Linked DNA regions of Homo sapiens: all the other regions are reported to be linked to region 6. The links are microRNA targets in miRTarBase. Many come from high-throughput screens and were not tested one by one. Region 6 holds a microRNA gene; each other region holds the end of a gene's coding sequence. Distances are from middle to middle.

Region 1 (4,110 bases), not on the chromosome of region 6:
ACAGACACCAAGTGCAGCACCCAACATTGGACTGGATCCTCAAGCCACCTTAGGAGAGGGGACATGGGGACACAGAGGCCCTGAAGGAGGAAGTCACCTGCCCCTGGTTATGTGGCTGGTAGGCATGGAGCCGCAGGTGCACCAGGCACTGCAGTACAGACCCCCAGAGGCCAGGGAGCACCAGCCGGGCTTTGCAGCTGGCTTTCTCGCCCACCCTGGTATCTGCACTATCACCTGCAGACACGAAGTGTGCAACCAGACCCTGGGAGCTTTCAATCTGGAAGACCGGAGGTGGAAGCCCAAAGCTGCAGGGCCAAGTGCCCGTGCACCCCCGTTTTTGTGGTGGGAGAAAAGATACAGAAACTAAGGGGCTTCTGGGATGCTTCTTTACTTTGCGTAATGTGTGCGTTTTCAATTAAAAGTGTACGTTGATTTTTGTAATCAGATTTAAAACGAAACGAAGAAAAGTCTAAAAGCAGAAGAAAAAGAGAAGCAACAACTCGCAGGCCATCTGCTCACAGGCGTTTTCGGTGGTGAGCACCTGTGAGCCGGTGTCCCTGCCCTTACTTGGGCACACAGACTGGGTGTGGAAGGACACTGGTGCCAGTTGGGCACACAGACTGGGTGTGGAAGGACACTGGTGCCAGTTGGGCACACAGACTGGGTGTGGAAGGACACTGGTGCCAGTTGGGCACACAGACTGGGTGTGGAAGGACACTGGTGCCAGTGTGGCCCCCAGGACATTGACGACGGGTGCTGTGAGGGTGGCAGGCCACATGGGGCAGGGCGGTGCCAGCTCTTTCCTCCACGTGCGGCTTTGGGAAGCGGCTGCCTGGTGGACTTGGTGAATGTGATTTCTGTTCCTTCCAGGTCCTTCTATGGCCACGGAAGAGTGGGTGAGGGGAACACCTCTGGCTCCAACATTACTTGTTGGTTTTTTCTTCACACAAATGAAAAATTCAGCATCTCATTTAACTTAAATACCAGTTTTCTATGAAAGACAAAATGAAAAAATATATAAAAAGGTCACTTTATTTTGCCTTTTGTTTGGTATGCTATCAATGCCCTTTAAAATCCTACTATTCAAGTACAAATGCTGATGTTTACAAAGTATTTACAATTTTAGTCTTGTTCCTTTCTATCTTAAAACACAACAGCTAACTGGTTACAACAGTTAACAAAATAATAATAATAAAGGTCACAAAAAGAGAAACCCCTGTCTTATCAGGCACCAAATCTGAACAAGGGCTTGGATCCAACCTTCTGCTTCCCGCCAGGTGCTTTAAAAACAGTCTGGCTAACTGTTTTTATCATCAGAATAAACGTCTTTCTTTAAAGAATAGCAGGGCAACTGTTTCCCAGGGTCGCCAATTAGAGTCTGACAGTGTTCGGGCTGCTGCCTTTATAGTCTGTGTTCTCAAAGTTTCCAACTCTTACTTGCCGTATTGGAATGAACCCAGATTCACAAGGGGAAGGCCTAGACAACAGCTTCCTGAACGCGTACTTAATTCTTAGGTTAGAAACTTTAACCTTTAAAAGGGAAGGCCAAGAAAATAACACACTAAAAGGAGAGTTTTTACGTACACGACTAAATGAATTTAACTCAGGTCAACGGTAGCATCTAGAAGTTACTAAATTGAGTGCTACGAGTAAAAATATGTCCGTGTTTTGTATTAGGGAACAGCCAAAGGAAACACACTTGAGAGACAGGAGACCCTCACTGACGTGAGATCGGGGCGGAAACTCCACATTGCAAATATTCAGAATCCCATTAAGCTCTCCAAAAAAGCATTTGAGAGATGGTGTTAAATTCTCTTGTAGTGTTTTAGATTAATAGAGCGCTTTTACTTAGACAGTTATGTCTAGGATATTCTAAAATAAGTGCACTCAACATTTTATCTTCAACTATAAGGAGACTACCAAGATTTGGGAAAGACAAAAAAAATGAACAGGGCACACAAATTAAAACAAATGACAAAGGCAGAATTCCTAGATACTTCAGTTCTATCACATCTGCGGATGAGGAGGAGTAAAAGTTTCCACTGGGAGCCAGATGTGAGGCGCACACAGCGGCCCTCCCTCCGGCAAGCTGCGCTCTCACGGCACGTGCCAAGCCAGGGAGAACGGGTTGGTTAGAACAAACAGATTCCAGTCCTCTGCTTTGGTATGTTCAACTAACTAAAAGATTAATTTCTTCTGTTTCTTCAAAGCTTGGTTTTTACTTTTCTCCACATTTCTTATCAAGAGCTCAAGTGAGCTCCCCAGTTGATTTCACTGACTCCTGCTGTATCGCTGTCCACAGAAACCTGTGGGACAGAATACCTTCCTCAATGTCACTTAAAGTGAGAGAATGGGGAGGAAGCAGATGAAATACAATTTAAAAACAGAAAATCTTTATTGTGCCATAACTGATTTTTAGTATACAAAAAACCTAATATAACCTAATTTCCTGGACCAAATAATGTAAAATAGGCCAAAATCAAGCCACAGCACAAAGGATACTATTGGATATGGACCTTTTTGCTTTGGTGAAAACTTCAAAGTAAGGAGACACTGTCAATCAATTCCACTAAAATTGCATTTATTTTCCTGTCATAGTAAAAAAAGGAAAAACAGTAGCAAATACTGGGCTTCGTTTTCCCCCTCAACGGCACGCCTTCCACAACAGCACAGGTGGTTCTCTGCTTCACTGGCAGAACCACACAAGCTTATCCTAGAGAAAATCTGCTGTCGTAAGTCCACAAGGAAGAGTTGACTGGGCCCACCGCTATAGCCAATACTTCCAGAATCACCAGCCCACCTTCGTCAAAGGGCTGACTGTGGCAGCAAGGGGTGTCTGTCACATTCGTCCTGGCTCACTGAGCCCAGGCCTCATCGTACCCTCAGCTGTGACATCTGTACTACCATTGCCTCTGCGTGGTCCTCTGGGCCTCACGCCAGCCATGGCAGAGTGTCCCAAAGGTTCTCAGGAGCTGTTTAACACACTATGTCAAATACCAGCTTCCCCCGAAAACTGGAGATGCGTCTTGAGTGCACTGAGTTGGGCATCAGTCCCAGAAGTTTCCATTAAATGAAAGCGAATCCCATTGCAGGGTAGGGCCTGGGGGAGGCCACTGTTGGCTGCTCTTTGGAATAACAATGCAATGACTGATCATTTCCCTTGAACACAGGCCAGGAACGTGCCTTGTGTGTTTAGGTGGGTGTCAGAACATTTCTCTTAAAAGTTAAGTCATATTTTAGGAGGGAAGGAAGGAACCATATTGCCTTTCTTTGGAATGGAAAACCCATCTCGGATGATTGACTTTAGACAGGCCTTCCCCTCTGCGAAGACCACGAGGCATTTTTCAGTAAGGTATAAAGAACTAAACTCTGGCAGACACTGTGGAAGCCCACGCCTTATCTTTAGAAAGTCCATTGTATGCTCCTCACACACGGCAGACGGCTTCTGTGGCGTGCAAAGCACTACATGCTCACAAAGAAATTCTAAATGGCTTTCAGAACACAGTACTATGGCTCTAGGGGACGGGTGCGGGTGGGGACTGAAAGGTGAAATGATTTAGAGGAAGCCATGTTGTCACTTTTTCCATGAGCCACGTAGTACAGAGAACGCGGCACTCCATAAGGACCATTTGTCCTGCAGTGTGGGATGCATTTTAATAAAATGATTACACTATTTTGTTTCAATTATATCTTTCCCAGTGCTGAATCTCTTGCGTGACATGGTCCCAAGGTTCACTAATAAAGCGTTTTCTGTGAGGAAGGTAGTTTTGCTTTAGATGAGAGGCAGCCCTGCTGCCCTGACTACTGGCACGGAGGCTTAGTAGGTGTCTTTAGCCTGACAGCAGGGACCCTCATCTGTAACTTGGGCTGCTGGCTTGGGCTGTCGGAGCTGGCGGGCACCTGGGCTGGGTTGGGAGCGCCTGGAGTCTGGAGCGGGGCCGACGCCGTGGTCACCACCTGCTGCTGAATGAGTTTCTGCTGAACCACCTGGGCAGTCGCGGTCACTGCAGGGATCATCTGCACCTGCTGCCCGGCCGCCGTCGCCTGCGTGAGCGCCACAGTCTGTGGAGAAGCCTGAGCCGAGAGAGTCAGAAAACACACATTGCCCAG
Region 2 (4,000 bases), not on the chromosome of region 6:
AAGCTGAGAGTCTATGGAACACTGGTTTCCTCCTGCTCAGGACAGTGTGTTATGACATTTGTGGTTACAAATGCCCAATCGGGCCGGGTGCAGTGGCTCACACATGTAATCCCAGCACTTTGGGAGGCCGAGGTGGGCAGATCACCTGAGGTCAGGAGTTCGAGACCAGCCTGGCCAACATGGTGAAACCCCATCTCTACTAAAAATAAAAATACAAAAATTAGCCGGGCGTGGTGGCATGCGCCTGTAGTCCCAGCTACTCAGGAGGCTGAGGCAGGAGAATCGCTTGAACCCAGGAGGCAGAGGTTGCAGTGAGCCAAGATCACGCCATTACACTCCAGCCTGGATGACAAGAGCGAGACTCCATCTCAAAGAAAAAAAAAAAACAAACAAATGCCCAATTGACTCTCCTCTTTTTATAGTGAACTTTGGCTGAATTGGATGGCCCAAAACAAAAGTTTAAGTTTAGGGCCCAGTTAGGTGTGAATGTAAAGACAAATGAACTTTGATAGTCTTGGGAAAAGTTGTGATCTATCTACAAAATGGTGGTGGTGGTGTGTGGATGGGGGCACTAGAGGCAGGCAGTGTCACACGAAGATACACTGATACACCTCACAAATCTTTGGCATTAGACAGATCTGGGTTTGAATCCCAGCTCTGTTTCTTTCCGACCATGTGACTTTGGCTGTTTTAACCTTTGAGCCTTCAGTGTCCTCATCTACAAAATGGTGATAATAAAGTGTCTATCAAACCATTTTGAGATAAAATGATAGAATGTACATACACGTATTTGTGCACAGAGCTGAGTGACTGGTGCTCCCAAATGGTAGCCACTAATTCAAGACAGTTCTGTCAGATGTTGCAGGTAAAACACATTGGTTTTTTATCATTATTTGTTTCTTTTTAAGTAAAGGCTATGTCTATGTGATTAACTGGGTGACAGCAAGAAGTGGGTTCCTGTCCTGTTTGGAGGAAGGCAAAAGAAAATGAAGTCAGTTAAAGCTTTGTGGTGGTGGTGGAGGGTGTGTGTGGATCTTGAAACTCCCCAGGGAAAATGTGTGGGCCAGTGCACCAGAGGGTGCCTGGACCTGGGAGACAGCAGATGGCCCACAGCAGCCTGTCCCCTTCCCCTGGCCCACAAAGCACACGAAGAAGCCAACCAGCCAGCTCAGAACCGGAGGATCTAATGTACTACTTCTGAAAACGGAAATCCACAGACATTCAATACAGGCCGAAACAGACTCTCACCCCAAAAATATTAGTGAAAGTGCATACACTTTATTATGTACATTGTTGGAAAGGGAGGCCACCTGGAGAAACTTCTGCACTGGCACTGTGTTCCTAGAGCTCCTTCTATGCGTCCCTCCCAAGTGATTTAATTTCAGCTGATTGGACTACGAATTCACAAGGCAGAAAAGTCAAGGTCATTTGGTATCTGGAGACAGGAGAACTCAAGGAACCAAAAGCACTGTTACTCTAAGTCTCAGAAAAGGTTTTCAGTCAGGATATGGAGGCTCCTGGTCCTCAAGGGTGAACCACTTCACACAACAGATAAAACCATCATTTTAAAATTCAAAATGTAAGTGCAACTTGAGTTTAAGTTGCACTGCTCCATACCTCTAATAAACTCAGCTAGGAGCCAGGATACATGGTAGTTCAAGGCTTCCTAAAATAAGCTTGAAATTGGGGTACAGGGGAAGGGACATCCATTGGCTGGATGGACAGAGTGGTTGAGCTAAAGAGAGCTATAAAGGCTCGTGCTGGGAAAGAAAGCTGTTATGCTTAGACTTCTCTAGGTGAACTCAGAGTCTCAAAGAGGAAATGTTACAAATGTCACCCGCCAGCTTTCTGGCCAGTAAGCAGAATGCCAGGTTGCTCAGATTCACAGACATTTGCAAAACAGAAGATGTCTCCTAATATTATAGACTAAGAATTTGTTGTCCAGAGGAGCTGACCAGTTCCTCTTTCAGCATCAATATACATGATAGAAGAATGACTAGGTAAATTTAAAAAGACCTACATCTATATAGATATTGTAAGTTTGACAGTATCTGCCCAAGATCATTAGACACTATATAGTCAATATACTGTGAATTCCTTATACTATGTAATGAATGGGTTTGTAATCAACATATTTCACAGTGTACCACAGTTAACAGCATGCAGATAGTAAAATATAATGGTTTCCTGAAGTTATCTCTTAAAAAAGTATTTTAGTCCTTCAGCTATTCAAATAGATATATAACAATTGCATATAGAACGTAGAGAAAATTTTATTAAAAAATTAAAACTATTTAAAACCTGATATATGAAAATAGGCAACAGTGAGAAAAAAGCACTTTTGTGACAAATATTTAGCTGGTTTGAAAGACAGAACAAGGAGGAATCATTTACTCATAAAGAAGGCTCAAATAAGTTAAAACATGGATGTATTTTTAAAATGACCACTCTAGTAGTGAATTTAAAAGTCTTTTAAGGGTTAGAGTAATCTTTTTCATTAGTCTTGGCTATTTCCTCTAGTTCTGACAAGTACAGGCAAGAAAATGGCTACTCTCAAGTAAGGATTATTCTGAAACACGGTCTGGATTTAGAAAATAAATGAACATTAGGGAAATTTCCTTAATTAAGACTCTCCAAACCAGGTGTGGTAGCTCATGCCTGTAATCCCAGCACTTTGGGAGGCAGAGGTGGGTGGATCACCTGAGGTTAGGAGTTCGTGACTAGCCTGGCCAACATGGTGAAACCCCGTCTCTACTAAAAAACAATAATAATAATACAAAAATTAGCTGGGCATGGTGGCATGAGCCTGTAATCCCAGCTACTGGGGAGGCTGAGGCAGGAGAATCTCTTGAACCCAGGAGGCGGAGGTTGCAGTGAGCCGAGATCATGCTATTGCACTCCAGCCTGGGCAACAAGAGTGAAACTCCATCTCAGAAAAAAAAAAAAAAAGACTCTCTGGAGGTAAGGCACATATGACCTGGAGAAGCTGGTTGTGGTGTAAGGTCATCACTTTCTGCAAAGCATTTAGCCAGTCAGCGGTGTCAGGTGGCAGTTACAGCCCAGGTTCTTGCCTCTGGCCTGGGTGCTTAGGGGGTTCAGAATGAGTCAGTGGAAGTCAAAACAAGAGGGATCTAACCTACTACATAATAATCTAAAAATACAAACTTTTAACTATTTTAAGACTAACAGATTACCTTATATAAATCACCAATCTCTCAGTATTTACAAGCTAACAATTCTTTCACCTATTTTTATAACTGCTATACATTCTGGGAACACCACAATTGACATATGGAAAAAGAAAAGCCCTACCCTCTCTTTATGAGTTAAAGGCTAATTTGGTCCCCGACTTCATGCTTGGAAGGCTAGCGCTCATCTCTACACTAGCCTAGATGGCTGTGTTTTGCCCCTATGATTCCTTGCAGCATATCTATGGGCAGAGGGAAGACAATTGTTGAGTTTTTCTCAGCAGCAATGGTGGTCAGTGTCTGCAGGTATCGGAGCTGAAGGGCTGCAGGAGATTCAGTGATGACCATGGAGGCTTCTTTCAGAGCCCTGGATGCATTCATTTCTCCTTCGGCTGCAATAACCTATGGACAGGTGAAAGGAGGGGTTGAACTGGAGAAAACCTCATGGGGACACACAGCACTCTTCAACCGGGGGTATGTATACCTCAGGTGGTCCACAAAACTTTCTAGGGCGTATGCCAGAGTAGTTTTAAGAAAATCAATTTCTACATACTCAGTTTCCATATGCTTCTTTTTCTGAAACTGACTTGCCTGACTAGTGCCTGGATCAAGACATTCTCTTTTACTATAGCCTTTCTCCCATTTTCCAGGGTAACAAACAAAGGGATAATTCAAAATACTGTGCAGGATTGAGAAAGCAAGTAACTTTAATGACTGCAGGCAAATCCTTTTGCAAGTCAGCAGCATTTCCAATTCTCTGATGAGTACCTTACTAAACTGAAAGCTGACAGGTCATTATAAATATTTTTTGA
Region 3 (4,136 bases), 17 Mb from region 6:
ACCTCTAATGGTCTCCCAAACAGTAGGAGCTCAACAAATGTTTGTTGGATAAACGAAATAGCCCACCAAAAAGACTAAGGCCTGACATAGTACTTCACAGGACTGTTGTGAGGGTTAAATATCTTATATATGTATAGCTCTTAGAAATTTGTGTGGCATATAGAAAGCTCTCAAAAAATGCTAGCTATAGGCTGGGCGCCATGGCTCACGCCTGTAATCCCAGCACTTTGGGAGGCTGAGGCAGGCGGATCACCGGAGGTTGGGAGTTCAAGACAAGCCTGACCAACATGGAGAAACCCCGTGTCTACTAAAAATACAAAATTAGCCAGGCATGGTGGTACATGCCTGTAATCGCAGCTACTCGGGAGGCTTAGGCAGGAGAATCGCTTGAACCTGGGAGGCAGAGATTATGGTGAGCTGAGGTCGCACCATTGCACTCCCGCCTGGGCAACAAGAGCGAAACTCCGTCTCAAAAAAAATAATAATAAATAAAATAAAAATGCTAGCTATTAAATATAACTACAGACTTTTATTGAAGTATATGTTTCCCCATACACTTGCCAACATTGTAGTGTACATATGATGTCTAAATATTTGTAACTGGGAGAGTTGAAAAATGCCTCATAATTTTAAATATTACTTTGGTGGTAACAGTGAAGTCTGTTATATTTTCATGTATTTATTGGTCATTTATATATCCTTTTTTATCAATTGCCAGTTTGTACTTGTATTTTTCCTTATAAGTTTTATTTCATTATATATATGTTTGTATCTTTTAGAATCCTGGTTTTGACTTCAGTGGAGCAGAAATCTCAGGAAACTACACTAAAGGTGGACCAGATTTCTCAAACCTTGAGAAATAACTGCTTTTTTTCCTGCATTCTGTGGATCCTAGCAGATATTGCCAACTTAATCAGATAAACAGATTATGTAATGGAAGAAAAATGCGGATGCCTACAGTTAACAGATTGCAAAATGTATCTTAAAATGGTTCTAAAAATTGCATTCAAACATAATTTACATAGGAAATGTACTGTGGGAACTATTCTATGGATATATGGTAAAGTTGTTTTGGACTTGTTTTTGCTCAGCATGAAGTTTTATATGCTGCATTTTACTAATTCCATATTTAACCATATTTTTAATACAAAAGAACATTAGAGTATAGATCATGTGAAATGAAGGGTGCCTTTGGGGAAAATTAACTTTTTCTTTTGATAAGTATGATATTCAATAAAATTTTCTAAATAGGAATTGTGTACCCCTTTGTCTAAGTATAACAATTCACACAAAATTATAGTGCTGAAAACAATTTTAATAAAGGAAAAAGTCCATAAATGTATTTTAAGTAAATTAAGAGTTAATGTAAATTTCTTAATTAGAATATTATTACTTGAGGGATTACTTTATGTCAAGAAGTTTAAAAATAGTTAAAACCCTAACAATAGAAGTGGATTAACACAAAAGAGAAGTGTGATCATGGTAATTAGGTGAGTCCTTTGTGGCAGAAAGCAAAGTAAGGTCACTAATTGTATATCAGTGGCATCATTTTGATTGTAAGTGATTTAGGCATATAGGTAGGAATTGTCTATAGACATTTTATTCAATATCCTATTTATGTCCTTTTTATTTTTTGCCCTTTTTAACTCTTGAAAAAATTTTAAATCTCATGCATAGAAAAGTTACAGATAATTTTTTTCTTTCTGAACCATTTGTGATTTAGTTGAAGACATGATTCCTCATTACTGATTACTATCTGCTTCAAATTATCTTACATGACTACAATGCAACCATTAGAATCAGGAAATTTACGTTGACACATTACTACCCTCTAATCCTCAGATCTTCACTTCATTCACATTGAACTGATTGTCCCAATAATGTCCATATAGCAAGAGGATCCAGTCAGAATCATGCCTTTCATTTAGATGTCAGCTGTCTTTAGTTTACTTCATTCTGGAACAAATTCTCATTTGTTTCCTTTTACAACTTAGTACTTTTGACAATTATGGGCTAGTTTTGTAGAACACCCCTTATTTTGAGTTCTGTCTGATACTTCATGATTAGATTGAGGTTATTCATCTTTGGCAGGAATGTGATAGAAGTGCATCCTGTCATTGTTTAATAATTTCAGTTTGTCTCATTTCTGATGGTGTTTCTTAGATGACTGATTAAGGTAGTGTCTGCCAGACTTCTCCACTGTAGTTATTTTTATAATTATTTCTTGAGAAGATAGTTGCAAAATACTACCTTGTTTCTGATCAGACTTTAAATTTATCGTATCTCTATAAACTCATTATTTTCTATTTTATTCAGCAGGTTAAAAAACCTATTATCATTACATTGGTGCTCAAAATTATTGTACATTTGGCTGGTAGAAGTCCATTCTGGGTGGCCTCTGTGTCCTTCTGACACATTCCCATCATTATTCAATGAATTTGTTACTCTCTGGCATAAGATATACCAGGCTTCTCATGCTGTCCTCGACCTAACCCAAGAATCAGCCATTTTTCCGTAGAGCCTGGGTTCTCTTTAGTGAGTAATATTTAAAAGCCAAGATCTGTGCTAGTGTGCAATTGCCGTTGGTGTGTATATATAATGCATGTCTTTACATCTATATTTCTGCATCTATGTATATTGAAAACCATGAATTCACATATAAATTCTGATCCCATGGGCTTCATTTTCATTTTTTCCTTCTCCACATTTATAACCGTTTTCAGTACCAGTGAGAAACCTGATTCCTATTTGATTATTTGTGGGGTTTTTTTTTTTTAAGGTGGAGTTTCACTCTTGTTGCCCAGACTGGAGTGCAGTCGCGCGATCTCGGCTTACTGCAACCTCCGCCTCCTGGGTTCAAGCGATTCTCCTGCCTCAGCCTCCCAAGTAGCTGGGATTACAGGCATGCGCTGCCACACCTGGCTAATTTTTAATTTTTGGTAGAGACGGGGTTTCTCCATGTTGGTCAGGCTGGTCTCGAACTCCGGACATCAGGTGATCCGCCCGCCTGGGCCTCCCAAATTGCTGGGATTACAGGTGTGAGCCACTGCGCCTGGCCTGATTCTCTATTGTAGGTCATCTCCCCACATGAATGTCTTCCTCACCCTGCTTAGGCTTCGCATCCTATGCTGAGCAGGAATGTCCTCCTCATCCTGCCTGGACCCTAATACCTCACTCCAGGCCATGGCAGTCCATTCACCCTGTGATTCCTATCTTGCTCATTTTAGGAATGAATTGTCGGGGGAAGAGGCTATTTTTCTTTTAATTTTATTCTCTTTGACATTTAACAAAATTTTTTGAGTAAAGTAAAATTAACTTTTTTGGTGTATGGTTTGGTGAATTTTAAGTATAGATATGTGTAAACACCTCCACAGTCAGAGTATTGAAGAGTTCAATCACCGTAAAAACTCTCGTGCTCTCTTTGTACTCTACACACCCTACTCCCAGCCCCTAAACCTTGGAAACCACTGATCTAATCCCCATCTCCATATTTTTGTCTTCAAGCATGTTATAAATGGGATCATATATAATTAAGAAAAACGCTTTATTGTAACAACATACATTTCACCCATTTAAGGTGTGTAATTCAGTAGCTTTTAGTATATACACAGATAAATGCAACCATTCCAATAATCAATTTTAGAATGTTTTCATCACCTCAGATAGAAACCTTGTATAGTTTAGCTTTTATCCTTCTCCTGTCATCCCCCGCCATCCATACTACCTCTTTTCATCTCATAGATTTCCTTATTCTGGACATTTCATGTACATGGAATCATAATACGTGGTCTTTGGTTACTGGCTTCCTTCACTTTACATGTCTTAAGAGGTTCATCTATATTCGAGCATGTATCAGCACATTCATTAGTATGTCTGAAAATACTTCATTGTATGGCTGTAGCACTTTGTTTATACATTTGTAAGTTGGACATTTTGGGTATTTCCACCCTTTGGCTGTCCTGACTAAAGCTGCTATAAACGTGTACAAGTCTTTATGTGCATATGTGTTTTCATTTCTTACCTAGGAGTAGAATTTTTAGGTTATATGATAACTATGTTAATCATTTGAGGAGCTGTCATTGTTTCCCAAAGCAGCTACATCTTTTTACTTTCCCACCAGCAGTGTATGCAGGTTC
Region 4 (4,136 bases), not on the chromosome of region 6:
CAACAACAAAACACAAATGACTCAATTTTAATGAGCAAAGGATTTTAAAACAAACTGGTTCAAAAAATATATAAACAACCAACAAAAACAAAAACCAATGTGCATTATTATTGGTCATTAGGGAAATGCAAATCAAAACCACAATGAAAAAGCAGTACAGAACCATTAATTGGCTATTATGAAAAAAATACGACAACCAGTATATGTGACAATGTGGAAAATAGAAACCCTTATGCATTGCTGGAGAGAATGTAAAACATTGTAGCCACTTTGTAAAGCAATATACCTGTTCCTGAAAAAGGTTTACACCAATTATTCTGTGAACCAGCAATTACACTCCTAGGGATACATATATCCAAAAGAATTGAAAGCAGGGACTCACACAGACATAGACATACCACATCCACAGCAGCCTTATTGATAGCAGTCAAATTATTACTGTGGAAACAACCCATGTTTATCAACATAAAAATGGATAAACAAAGTATGCTTTAACCATACAGTGGAAATTTATTCAGACACAAAAACAATGAGTTCCTGATACATGCTACCACATGGATAAACCTTGAAAACGTTCTAAGTGAAATAAGCCAGACATGGAAGGACACATGCATACTTCCACATATCTCTCTCTCTATGAATAGTCAAATTCACAGACAGAGAAAGTAGAATGGAGATTTTCAGTACTTTGGGATAGGATGGAATAGGTAATTACATGTATGGAACACTAAGTAGATAGAGCAAGTAGCACAGTAACACGTATAAAATGATCCCTTCCTTTGTGTATTCTAGTTTGTACCAGCACTGTAAGAGGCTTCCAGATGAGCAGTTCCAGTGGTTAATGTTGGTAGTTCAAAGGGTAACACTGCCCTCTAGGCAACATCGTGGAGGTCTATTTGAGATATATTTCACTACAAGTTATTCTCATGAATACTTCAATGAAACAGCTCTTATCAAGGCCCCCAGTGACCAAATACTTGCCAAAATCTACAGTCAACCCTTTTTCCTTGTCTTATTCAAATTCTCAGTGACCTGTGACACAGCTGACCACTCTCCCCATATTGAAATACCTTCTTCTGGAGGCTTCCAGGAGAAGAAACCCATGTTTTCCTCCTACTACTTCATTGGGTGTTGGAAACCATTATGGAGTGAGGAAGTCAATGATTTCAGGAGCTTCTCCACTATTGATGAAGTATCAGGAATATCTCAAATGCTGCAAGGGAGGTTGGTGGGGAAAACAATCTATGACATGCTTGAAGACTTTATTGAGGAACACATTGACAGGACAAGAGCACCGCCATCTTTATAACACTCCACCATCCTAAGCTTTAAGTTTCTATTTGGCCACCTGGCCAAAACTGAAAATGTCAGCCCCGCCCATAACTTCAACAGAGAATAACGGCCCTAACTGTAACAGAACAGCCAGGACTTCCCCAACCCCTCCCTAACAGAATTTTGTTTCAAAGCACACTTCTCCACTGGGCCCTTTAAAAAAGCCTCAGGCTGTAAGAGAAGTTTGCACCTGACCCTGCCGCTGGAAGCCCTTCTCAGGTTTACTCCCAATAAAACTGTCTCAACTGTTGAGCCACCTTCTCATCTCTCCTTTCCTTAATCTTTCTATCCCAACACAAATAAGAGAGCATAAATACTAACAAGGAACTCGAAGATATACTGAAATTCTCTGCAGATAATGATGATAATGATGATGCAGAAGACTTAGAAGAGGTAATATCAAAGATGTGACACTTGAAACATGTGCAGCAGTTTTTGGGGCATCTACAGCCTCTGCAAGGTGAAAAGTATTAAAGATTACAATCCTCGCAGGGCACGGTGGCTCATGCCTGTAATCTCAGCACTTTGGGAGGCCGAGGCAGGTGGATCACCTGAGGTCAGGAGTTCGAGACCAGCCTGACCAACATGGTGAAACCCCATCTCTACTAAAAATAAAAATTAGCCAGGCATGGTGGCGAGTGCCTGTAATCCCAGCTACTCTGGAGGCTGAGGCAGGAGAATCGCTTGAATCTGGGAGGTGGAGGTTGCAGTGAGTCGAGATCGCGCCACTGCACTCCAGACTGGGCAATAAGAACGAAACTCAGTCTCAAATGATAAATAAATAAATAAAAATAAAAATAAAATAAAGATTGCCATCCTCAAGTAAGATCCTTCAATGGAACAAAACCTCTGTGTCACCCAAGGGATAACATGCCAACAAACACTGCAAGGATATTTAAAGAAAAAGAACCAGCTTCCTACAACAATGTTTCTAACTAAATATCTGCAAATATGAAGACAGATCCTTCAGTGTGTACACATCTTCAGCCCTCATGCTGAACAGATTCTGACATTAGTATTATTTAGTCTCTTCCAAACTCAGCATCTGCAATCAGAACCTGGTTCATCCAACACAGATGATCATCCTGACATCCTGTCAAGATTCAAGTGAGCCTGATGTCTCACTGTTTATCTACAGTGCCACCCATCTAGTCACCTCAGTGAATCATATTAGGCACCATACTGTAATCAGCATCATCATGATCATGATCATCATCATCATCCTTGGGTTATCAAGCAAGAAGGATCAGGATTTTCATAAGTGTTAACACACGATTCCAGGTCATTAAATAAAAGCAATCTATGATTGTTGAAAAAAAAGAAACTGTAGATTACAGGCTCATGCCTGTAATCCCAGCACTTTGGGAGACCAAGGCAGGCAGATCATCTGAGGTCAGGAGTTCGAGACCAGCCTGACCAATATGATGAAACCCCGTCTCTACTAAAAATACAAAAAAAAAAAAAAAAAAAAAAAAATTAGCTGGGTGTGGTGGCATGCATCTGTAATCCCAGCTACTCAGGAGGCTAAGACAGGAGAATTGCTTGAACCCGGGAGGCAGAGGATGCAGTGAGCTGAGATTGTGCCATTGCCCTCCAGCCTGGGCAATAAGAGTGAAACTCTGTCTTAAAAAAAAAAAAAAGAAAAAAAGAAACTGTAACATTCTAGGTGACATGTACTATGTAGGCAGGCCTGTGATGGTTGGGTCTGTTCTCAACAGCACAGGATTATTTTCATATCACGATTCTCTAAAAAAAATACAATAAAATGACTGTTTACATAGCTTTTACAACACATGAGGTATTTTAGTAACCTACTTTTTATTTTTACTTTTACAAAAGCTTTGGGTTGGTGAAAAATTAAGTAATCTAGGCATGATTTATGGGATGCAGGAGGATGTGGATAGGTTACATGCAAATGTCCTTTTATAAAAGGAACACAGCATCTGTGGATTTAGGTATGCTTAGGGGGTCTGGAACCAATCCCCTGCATATGGTTAGGGGATAACCATATTCAAAAGAAACATCTTAAGGCTTTACCATGTGTTTGCATTCATGAGGCTTATCTCCTATGTGATTTCTTTCACGTTTCTGAAATGAAATAAAATTAATGAATGCTTTTCCACATTTATAGAGTATCTCTCCAGTGAGTCCTTTTATGTCTATGCAAGGAACTGAGAGAACTCAGTGCCTTCCCACATTCCTTACATTCATGCATCTTCTCTCCAGTGTGAGTTTTTTCATGTCCTCGAAGGAAACGAGAACGAGTGAAGGCTTTACCACATTGTTGACATTCATAAGATTTCTTTCCAGTGTGAATTCTTTCATGTCGCAGAAGGCAAGTGAGCCAAGAGAATGCTTTCCTGCATTCCTTACATTCATATGGCTTCTCTCCAGTGTGAATCCTTTCATGGACTTTTAAGTTACCAAAATGACTGAAGGCTTTCTTACATGTTTTACATTCATAAGGTTTTTCAGCCATGTGAGTCCTTCTATGTTGAGAAAGGTATGTGAAACAACTGAATGCTTTCCCACATTCCTTACACTCATATGGCTTCTCTCCAGTGTGAGTTGTTTCATGATTTTGAAAGGAATAGAAATCAATAAAGGCTTTCCCACATTTACATTTATAGGGTTTCTCTCCAGTGTGAGTTGTTTCATGTCTTCGAAGGGAACTAGAAATACGGAAGGCTTTACCACATTCTTTACATTCATAGGGTTTCTCACCAGTATGAGTCCTTTCATGTCCTTGAAATACACTGGGATAAATGAAGGCTTTCCCACATACCTTGCATTTGTGAGGTCCA
Region 5 (4,136 bases), not on the chromosome of region 6:
CCCACTCAAATCTCATGTTGAAATGTAATCCCTAATGCTGGAAGTGGGGCCTGGTGGGAGGTGGTTGCATCATGGGGGCAGTTTCTCATGGTTTAACGCCATCCCTACTTGGTGCTGTCATCGTGATAGTGAGTTTTCATGAGATCTGGTTGTTTGAAAATATGTGTTACCTCCCCCTTCTTTCTCTTCCCCCTGCTCTGGCCATGTGAAGTGCCGGCTCCCCCTTTGTCTTCTGCCACAATTGTAAGTTTCCTGAGGCCTCCCTAGAAGCCAAGCAGATGCCAGCATCATGCTTCCTGTACAGCCTGTGGAACTGTGAGCCAATTAAACCTCTTTTCTTTATAAATTACCCAGTCTCAGGTATTTCTTTATAGCAGTGCAAGAACAGACTAATACAAAGACTGTGGCAGAGAATGCAGGTGGAGTGCTGAAAAAGGAATCGGGAGGATCAGGCAGGGGCCAGATCACACGGGGCCTTGTGGAAAACACTCATCTCCTTTTCTGTGACATCTACTGTGTCTGCTTGTGATTACAGGTCCACAGATCCAACCGTCCAATCATCTGCAAGGGCTGCAGGAGAACATTCACGAGTCACCTGTCCCAGGGGCTGCGGCGCTTCGGGCTGTGTGACAGCTGCACCTGCGTTACAGACACACCCGATGATGATGATGATTTGATGCCCATCAACCTTAGCTTGGTGGAGGCTTCATCTGAAAGCCAAGAAAAGAGCGACACAGACAATGACTGGCCAATCTATGTGGAGTCGGGTGAGGAAAATGACCCTGCTGGAGATGATTCTGATGACAAACCACAAATTCAGCCTAACTTATCAGACCGAGAGACACTTACGTAGCAATAAATTGGTGGGGAAGAGGAGGTTTTAAAACTTGTTAGTGCTCGTTCTGTTGTTGAAAGATACCATTTGTCCAATTTTGTGGAACCCTGAGAGGAACATTTTTTCACTGTTATTATATGTGCATTTTTATTAGACTATCTGATAGAGGTTGGATTTTGTGACTCAAAGGACAGATAACCTTTTTGTGTGGTGCCCTTGGTTTCTGAGGGCTTTGCTGGCCACTCCTTAATTCTGAGTGAGTCAAAGCAGGCCCTGAGGTCTCCTGTTTTTCTTGCTGTGTGTCCAAACTCTGGTTAGGAGAAAGATAAGAAAATCTCCAGGCTTGTTTTTATATTGATTCAGTCCTCTGCATTCCTTTGTTATCATCCTCTTTCTCTAAAAACCATTAAGTTTTGGGATCAAGTTTACCTTTGCCAAGCCTTTCCTAATGAATTCCACATTAAATTTTCTGGCAAAGTATTAAAGAGAAACCTTCATTGATATAAAGCAGGCAGGGCGGTCTGGCTACATGATCATAAAAGGTACTCCCTAAATCTAGAACAATTTTAAAGGCTTGGAATACTTATGGGCAGACGAACATGGGAATGATCTGAAAGGCTCATTATGGCATCCTGACTTGCCCAGTTGAATTAAATTTTAAGTTAGCCCTGAGAAGGGAGGCTATGACCCCAGGTCTGGATGGTTTCCCTGTCTGGTTTGGCATTTGACGATTCTACACATACAACCTGTTCTGTTATCATAAAACAACTCATTTGGGCAAAACTCAAAATGCTCCCCTACTTTTTCCAGCAATTTCCAAAAGCTGGAGCTGTGTAACTTGGAAATGTAGCTGCCTCTGGCATTCTTTTACTTAGTTTATGCTGATGTAGGGCAGGTGAGCCCAAAAATTGGGGCTTAGCCCAGAGGAGTTCTTGGCTTCACCCAGGAAAGAATTCAAGGGCAAGCCAGTGGTGTTAGACAGCAGCTTGTATTGAAGCAGCAGTGCCCAACAGCAGCTAAGGGGCCGCTCCTCGTGGAGCAGGGCTACACCATAGGCAGTGTGCCCAGAGTAGTAGCTCAGAGGCAGGTCGGCACTTATATTTATACCCACTTTTAGTTACATGCAAATTAAGGGGCAGATTATGCAGCAATATTTAGGAAAATGGTGGTAACTTCCAAGCCGCTGGGTGGTTGCCATGATAAGGGGCAGTGACTTCCAGGTGTTGCCATGGCAATGGTAATTGACATGGCACAGTGATAAGTGTTTCTTATGGAAATCTGCTTCCTGCACCACCCTCCCACCACCGCCCTGTTTTAGCTAGTCCTCAATTTGGTCCATGTCCGAGTCCGGCCTTTGGAGTTGAGTCCTGCCTTCTACCTCCTTGCCTAGAACTTTAATTGGAGGGAAAGTATAAGCCCATAATGCCAAGTAACATTTCTAAAATGTTCATCTTTTAAAAGATCTTCATGAGGGAAAGGGAAGGTTAGTAGCAGAACAGGTTTTTAAAAGCAGTCTACCTTTCGCCCACTTTCCAGCCACACAATTATTGTAACAAAAGAGGCTGAACTCTTTAAAGGGCTAAAGGGCAGGCAGTGTTAGGAATTCGGAATGTAATTGAAGGCAATTTCCATAATTTTGTCTTATGTTAAAATATCCAAAATGGATTTTAAAAGAAATCTTCTTGTCTTCCTTTAAGTGTAGTTGTCTTTCAAAAGGTGGTAAAAGTCACTTTTATTTCTACCTCTTGAACAACAAAAAAGTCAAAAACATTATAAATTGGCTTGTAAATGTTAGCCAAAGCATTAGACAGGTGTTTAAGTCGTACTTCTCAATAGTAGTTAAAACTGGAACAGTGCAACTCAAACTCTGGCCCACAGAGAGGCCCTGTTCTGTAAACTGTTTTCTACCAGTCTGCTACAAGGAAAGTCAGAAATTAAGAATACACATATAGAAATGTTGATAACACTTTGACATTGCTGTGACTCATGGCTTTGTCTTCTTGAGTGAGGTATGGACCAGTTCAGTTCTGGTCAGCTAGAGGGCCACATGGTGCAGAGGTTGGATACCAGCCTGTACAGCAGGACCACGTATTGGTCTGCAGTAGAATGGAAAATTTAAAACTTCTCTTATCACAGGTAGTTCGATAAATATCATTCTTGGCTGTGTGCGGTGGCTCACGCCTATAATCCCAGCACTTTGGGAGGCCAAGGCAGATGGAACACTTGAGGTCAGGAGTTCGATACCAGCCTGACCAACATGGCGAAACCCCGTCTCTAGCAAAAATACAAAAATTAGTCAGGAGTGGTGGCATGTGCCTGTAATCCCAGCTACTCAGGAGGCTGTGGCGAGAGGAACACTTGAGCCTGGAAAAGGTTGCAGTGAGCTGGAATCGTGCCACTCCACTCCAGCCTGGGCAACAGTGTGAGACCTTGTCTCAAAAAAATAATAATAAAATAAATAAATAAAAGAAAAATATTCTAGATCAAGAGTTACTCATTGAAAATTATCAGGGACCAGAGATATTTGTCTTATCTGAAATAAAAATACTAGCTGTGGCCAGGCGCAGTGGCTCACGCCTGTAATCCCAACACTTTGGGAGGCCAAGGCAGGTGGATCACCTGAGGTCGGGAGTTCAAGACCAGCCTGGCCAACATGGAGAAACCCCGTCTCTACTAAAAATACAAAATTAGCCAGGCATGGTGGCGCATGCCTGTAATTCCAGCTACTCAGGAGGCTGAAGCAGGAGAATCGCTTGAACCCAGGAGGCGGAGGTTGCTGTGAGCCGACATCACACCACTGCACTCCAGCCTGGGCAACAAGAGCGAAACTGTCTCCAAAAATGTATACATATATTTGCTGTTATTTTAAAAGAGGGATCTCAGCAAAAAGGAAACCTAAATGGATGTGTAGAAGATTTACTTGGCCAGGAACAGTGTTTGATATTTTTGCTTTCTCTGTTTAAATTATCTCTGATGTTTTAATGACTTTTCTACCTCATAGTTCAGCCTCTTTGCCTGCTTTCTCCAGTGGAGCTATGATCCTCTTCAGTGATTCCGTGACCTCTTCATATCCCTGGGTAAAACATTTTACATTAGAGATTTCACTGTAGGACAGTGATTCTCAGTTGGGGGTGATTTCGTGCCTTGCAGGTGGCTACTGGCATCTAGTGGGTAGAGGCCAGGGAAGCTGCCAAACATCCTGAAATGCACAGGACAGTCCCCACAACAATGAATTCTCCAATTCAAAATGTCAGTAATACCAATGTTGAGAAACTCTGCTGTAAGATAAAGTAGGATTTTT
Region 6 (4,000 bases):
TGATTTTGTAGTCAGGATTATAGCAGTATTATCATATTTTCCCACTTTTTTTCCTCATTAAAAAATAGAATTGATGGGGATGGGGGGCTCTTTTCCGAAAAACTGCCCACCCAGCATTTCTGTTTTTTTAATGGGAAACAAAGATAAGTAGAAAGTGTTGTTAATGCCTTTGATTATAGAATCAGTTTACAAAATGTAGAAGAAATCACAGCATTAGGGAATTAGAATTTTACAAATACCATTGTCGTAACAGATTCAGGCAAACACCAGTGGATGCTGAGAGCATTGAGTGAAAGGTTTTTGGGGAACTGGCTAGTCACACAATCTGGAAGTATCAGCCCACAGATTGCTTATTAATTAAGAGGAAAACATTTATTTACAGTGAGGAAACCTGGCAGATACCAAAATAACCAAGTCATAAAATTTGCCACCAAAAATAAAGGTACAACCCGGCCTGCACTTCCTGAAGTGACGAGCTGAGGAGGGACACGCCATCACCTTGTGGTATTCTTACTAGAAATATTTAATTTGGAGATCTAATCATTAGGAAACAGTCAAATCCAGATTGAGGGGCATGGTCAGAACATCTGGATTGGACTCTTTAAAAAGGTCAGTGTTGTGATGAATGGACCGGAAGTGACTGAGGAACTATTCTAGATCAAAGGAGACTAATGAGACATGACAGCTAAGCATGATGCCGACAGCCCCGATTGAATCCTGGACACAAAACTAAACAAGTTAAACAGCTATTAAAGTCATCACCACAGATACCTGAAAATGGACCATCTATTAAAGAACACAGGGTTAAATTTCTTGAGGATAAGTAAATGAATTGTGGCCACGTAGCTAGCCTTGTTCTTAGGAGGGACCGTGGAAGTATTTAAGAATAAAATGTCATGTGTTTGCAGTTTACTCTTAATTGGTTCAGCAAAAATAAATACATATAGAAAGGACAAAATGTTGACAAATCTAAATAAAAGGTCCATGAGTGTTCTCACAGTATTGGAACTGCTCTATGGGTTTGAAAATTCTCAGGATGAAAGTGGAAAGAATAGAATTGTTTATTAAAGTAGCCAGACTCAAGCAGTGTGGAAACAGAAGTTCCTGTTAAAGAATAACAGTGGGGGAAGTTTCTCAAGAAAATAGTTGGAAGCAGGGATCACAGATGGGCTTTCACTGGATTGCCATCTCTGACAGTTAGTACTGGCGGCCAGACGTGGAAGTGCGTGGGAGCGTGGCCGCATCCGTGACTTACTAGCAGTGTTTGCCCAGGGCCTGGGACATGGGAGTGGTGGGGCATGTCCCAAATGTGCTTTGATATTTACAGCGTTACAGTCTAATTATTCTTCACTCTTTTCAGTCACTGCCTCCTCTGACCGGCCCTTTATTGTGAAGCCTACATTTCCTTTGGCGTGAAACTGGGCCAGAGCTCCTCAGATCCTTAAAAGTCAAGTGTCTGAGGCAGCTTTAGGTCAGGGTCTTTGAGCCCTATCAGGCTTTAGGGGTGGAGTATGGGGAGAAGGCCCTTTCTCCTAGGAGGGGACTCCTATATAACTTTCGCCAGATTCTGTAAAAGATTTAAGACCTAAAACTCCAGTCCTTTGCAAGTTGGTGGCGGGCTTTCGTTCTGCTGTCCTCCTGCCCGATCGGCAGGGTCGGGCTCCTCTGCCCGGCTCTTCTCTGTGCTGGTGTAATGACGCCACCGCGAGCGGCTTCTCTTCCTAGTCCAAAAGGTTCCCCCTTTGCTCCTGAGGGCGTGTGGATTTTTGCATCAAGAGCAGGTAATTTTCTACTCTCTTTAAGAGGTGAAAGGAGCCTGATCATAGTATGTGCTCAATAAATATTGTTGAATGGATGGTTGAAATAATTACACACTTCTTTTCCCAAACAGCTTTCCCGTTGAAATTAGTTGGTGTTCTTATTTAGTGTTCTTTGAATAGAATCACATGGATTGGTTTCCTTGGCTACCTGTTCAGCTTTCCTTTCCCTACTCCTTTCCCTACTCCTTTCCTACTCCTTTTCCTACTCCTTTCCTACTCCTTTCCCTACTCCTTTCCCTACTCCTTTCCTACTCCTTTCCCTACTCCTTTCCTACTCCTTTCCTACTCCTTTCCCTACTCCTTTCCCTACTCCTTTCCCTACTCCTTTCCCTACTCCTTTCCCTACTCCTTTCCCTACTCCTTTCCCTACTCCTTCCCTACTCCTTCCCCTACTCCTTTCCTACTCCTTTCCCTACTCCTTTCCTACTCCTTTCCCTACTCCTTTCCTACTCCTTTCCCTACTCCTTTCCCTACTCCTTTCCCTACTCCTTTTCCAGCTTGAGTCTTCAAGAGGGAGCCTCAACTGATTTCTAAAACCGTTTGTACCTGGTGTGATTATAAAGCAATGAGACTGATTGTCATATGTCGTTTGTGGGATCCGTCTCAGTTACTTTATAGCCATACCTGGTATCTTATACCACAGATCATGGCCCGTTGAACAACATTTTAAGAGATTTCTAAAGGGAAATTTAAAGCGGTTTAGCATTATTTTGTGATTGTCTCTAATTTACTGATCACAACTCTTATTTCAGAAAGGTAATTAGATATTAATTAGATGTTTATTGCTTGCTTTAATTTTATAGTTTTTTGTAGATTTTTAATCGGTATTCTGGTAAACTGCTGTTCTAATAAAGTGGCTGTAACAATTTTGAGTAAGGTAGTAAAAAGGTATATGTTCCATTGGGTTACATTTTCCATAAAACTCCTTTTACTGTTGTATTTCTCTTCTTTTTTTTGAGGGTCTTGCTCTGTCACCCAGGCTGGCGTGCAGTGGCGTGATCTCAGCTCACTGCAGCCTCAACTTCCTGGACTCCAGTGATCCTCCCACCTCAGCCTCCTGAGTATCTGGGACCACAGACATGTGCCACCATGCCTAGCTAATGTTCCTGTTTTTGTGAGAGACAGGGTTTCACCATGTTGCCCAGGCTGGTCTTGGACTCCTGAGCTCAAGCAATCCACCTGCCCTGGCTTCCCAAAGTGCTGGGATTATAGGCATGAGCCACCACGCCCAGCCCTGTTGAATTTCTTTTCAGTTGCGTGTAGTCTTCTGTGACTGCATGTAACACAAAGATGGTTCTTTTAGCTAAATATGGTAAATGAAACATGTAAAACCAAATATTTCAATGTGTTATTCATTGAAGAAGGATTGAAAAGGACAAGTTTTGGGGACTTCTGCTTGATTGTTTTGTTGGTTTACATTGATATGTACAAACCTTATTCAAATTCAAATAAGTGGTTATAATTTTCTCTTTCCCAAAATAAAATATTTATTTCCCTTCTAATGACCCCTAGTCTCTCTCAGGGGCTCTCTGGAGAAGGCAAATGTAGAAGCTACATGTTGCCACCGGCAGCTTCAGCTTATGAAAGGACAATCGCTGATAGATTGATAGAAGTTTCTCTGTTTCCTTAAAAGACAGTGGGAAGTTATTTCCTTTGTGGAGGAGGAAAGGGATAGCAGTTTCCTGCTGTCCATAGGAAGAGGTATTCAATTCCTTCACTGTTACTACTTCTGGAAATTATGTAGGGGAAAGGTCTAGGTAACTATAAGGCAACTTAAGACTGTCCTCGTAATTAACTTGCATAGCCTGTGCTTGTGGGCAGACCTCTGGACAACTGTTAGAGGCTGGAGGTATTTCGATGCCAAACTGGTCCAGAATGTTGAAGCCTGGACCTGTCTCTGGAACGTTTGATTTCCAGAAGAGTTCTGGGGTAAACTAGCAAGGAGCCTCAACTCCACTCAAGTCTGGACATAAGACCCAAGTTAGTTTCAGATGTCACTAATAAAAGGTGGCACCATTTGGCACTTTGTAGCTCTGTTACCAGCTGTGTGTCCCCTGTCTCAGTGAGATTAGAAAGCTTGGTATCCTGTACTTGTTTTTGTTCCTGGCACTAGTTCTACAGACAGTGGGTACTCCATGAATGTTCCTAGATTAGTGCAAGAAGTACCAATTTATGCTATA

The links. The annotated mature microRNA hsa-miR-340-3p reads UCCGUCUCAGUUACUUUAUAGC and lies in region 6 at 2,418-2,439, shown strand. An mRNA with a match to its seed (bases 2 to 7 or 8) in the 3' UTR can be bound and repressed. Matches are read on the target gene's strand: a 7mer-m8 pairs with bases 2 to 8, a 7mer-A1 pairs with bases 2 to 7 and ends in A, and an 8mer does both.
Region 1: miRTarBase lists EP400 as a target of hsa-miR-340-3p. The part of its 3' UTR that is shown has no 7-base or 8-base seed match.
Region 2: miRTarBase lists STOM as a target of hsa-miR-340-3p. Seed matches in the 3' UTR shown: 7mer-m8 at 2,746-2,752.
Region 3: miRTarBase lists NUDCD2 as a target of hsa-miR-340-3p. Seed matches in the 3' UTR shown: 7mer-m8 at 2,943-2,949.
Region 4: the mRNA of ZNF442 is a reported target of hsa-miR-340-3p. Seed matches in the 3' UTR shown: 7mer-m8 at 2,765-2,771.
Region 5: miRTarBase lists ZBTB8B as a target of hsa-miR-340-3p. The part of its 3' UTR that is shown has no 7-base or 8-base seed match.

What each region holds. Positions count from the first base shown.
Region 1 is chr12:132,077,365-132,081,474 of GRCh38, reverse strand. EP400 (E1A binding protein p400) reads right to left here. Exons shown (of 53, transcript NM_015409.5): 53 at 1,015-4,074. The coding sequence ends at 3,802. Among named protein-coding and RNA genes, the nearest start is that of SNORA49, 48 kb to the right of the region's middle.
Region 2 is chr9:121,337,819-121,341,818 of GRCh38, forward strand. It overlaps STOM (stomatin), which reads right to left. Exons shown (of 7, transcript NM_004099.6): 7 at 1,169-3,590. The coding sequence ends at 3,384. Among named protein-coding and RNA genes, the nearest start is that of STOM, 30 kb to the right of the region's middle.
Region 3 is chr5:163,450,694-163,454,829 of GRCh38, reverse strand. NUDCD2 (NudC domain containing 2) reads left to right here. Exons shown (of 4, transcript NM_145266.6): 4 at 780-4,136. The coding sequence ends at 863. It also overlaps a transcript of CCNG1 not described here. Among named protein-coding and RNA genes, the nearest start is that of NUDCD2, 7.3 kb to the left of the region's middle.
Region 4 is chr19:12,346,244-12,350,379 of GRCh38, forward strand. ZNF442 (zinc finger protein 442) reads right to left here. Exons shown (of 6, transcript NM_030824.3): 6 at 1-4,136. The coding sequence ends at 3,458. It also overlaps a transcript of ZNF563 not described here. Among named protein-coding and RNA genes, the nearest start is that of ZNF563, 15 kb to the left of the region's middle.
Region 5 is chr1:32,484,566-32,488,701 of GRCh38, forward strand. It overlaps ZBTB8B (zinc finger and BTB domain containing 8B), which reads left to right. Exons shown (of 4, transcript NM_001145720.2): 4 at 536-4,136. The coding sequence ends at 853. Among named protein-coding and RNA genes, the nearest start is that of ZBTB8B, 22 kb to the left of the region's middle.
Region 6 is chr5:180,013,758-180,017,757 of GRCh38, reverse strand. MIR340 (microRNA 340) reads left to right here and starts at 2,361; the gene lies at 2,361-2,455. The region is part of intron 2 of RNF130 (ring finger protein 130); the gene reads left to right.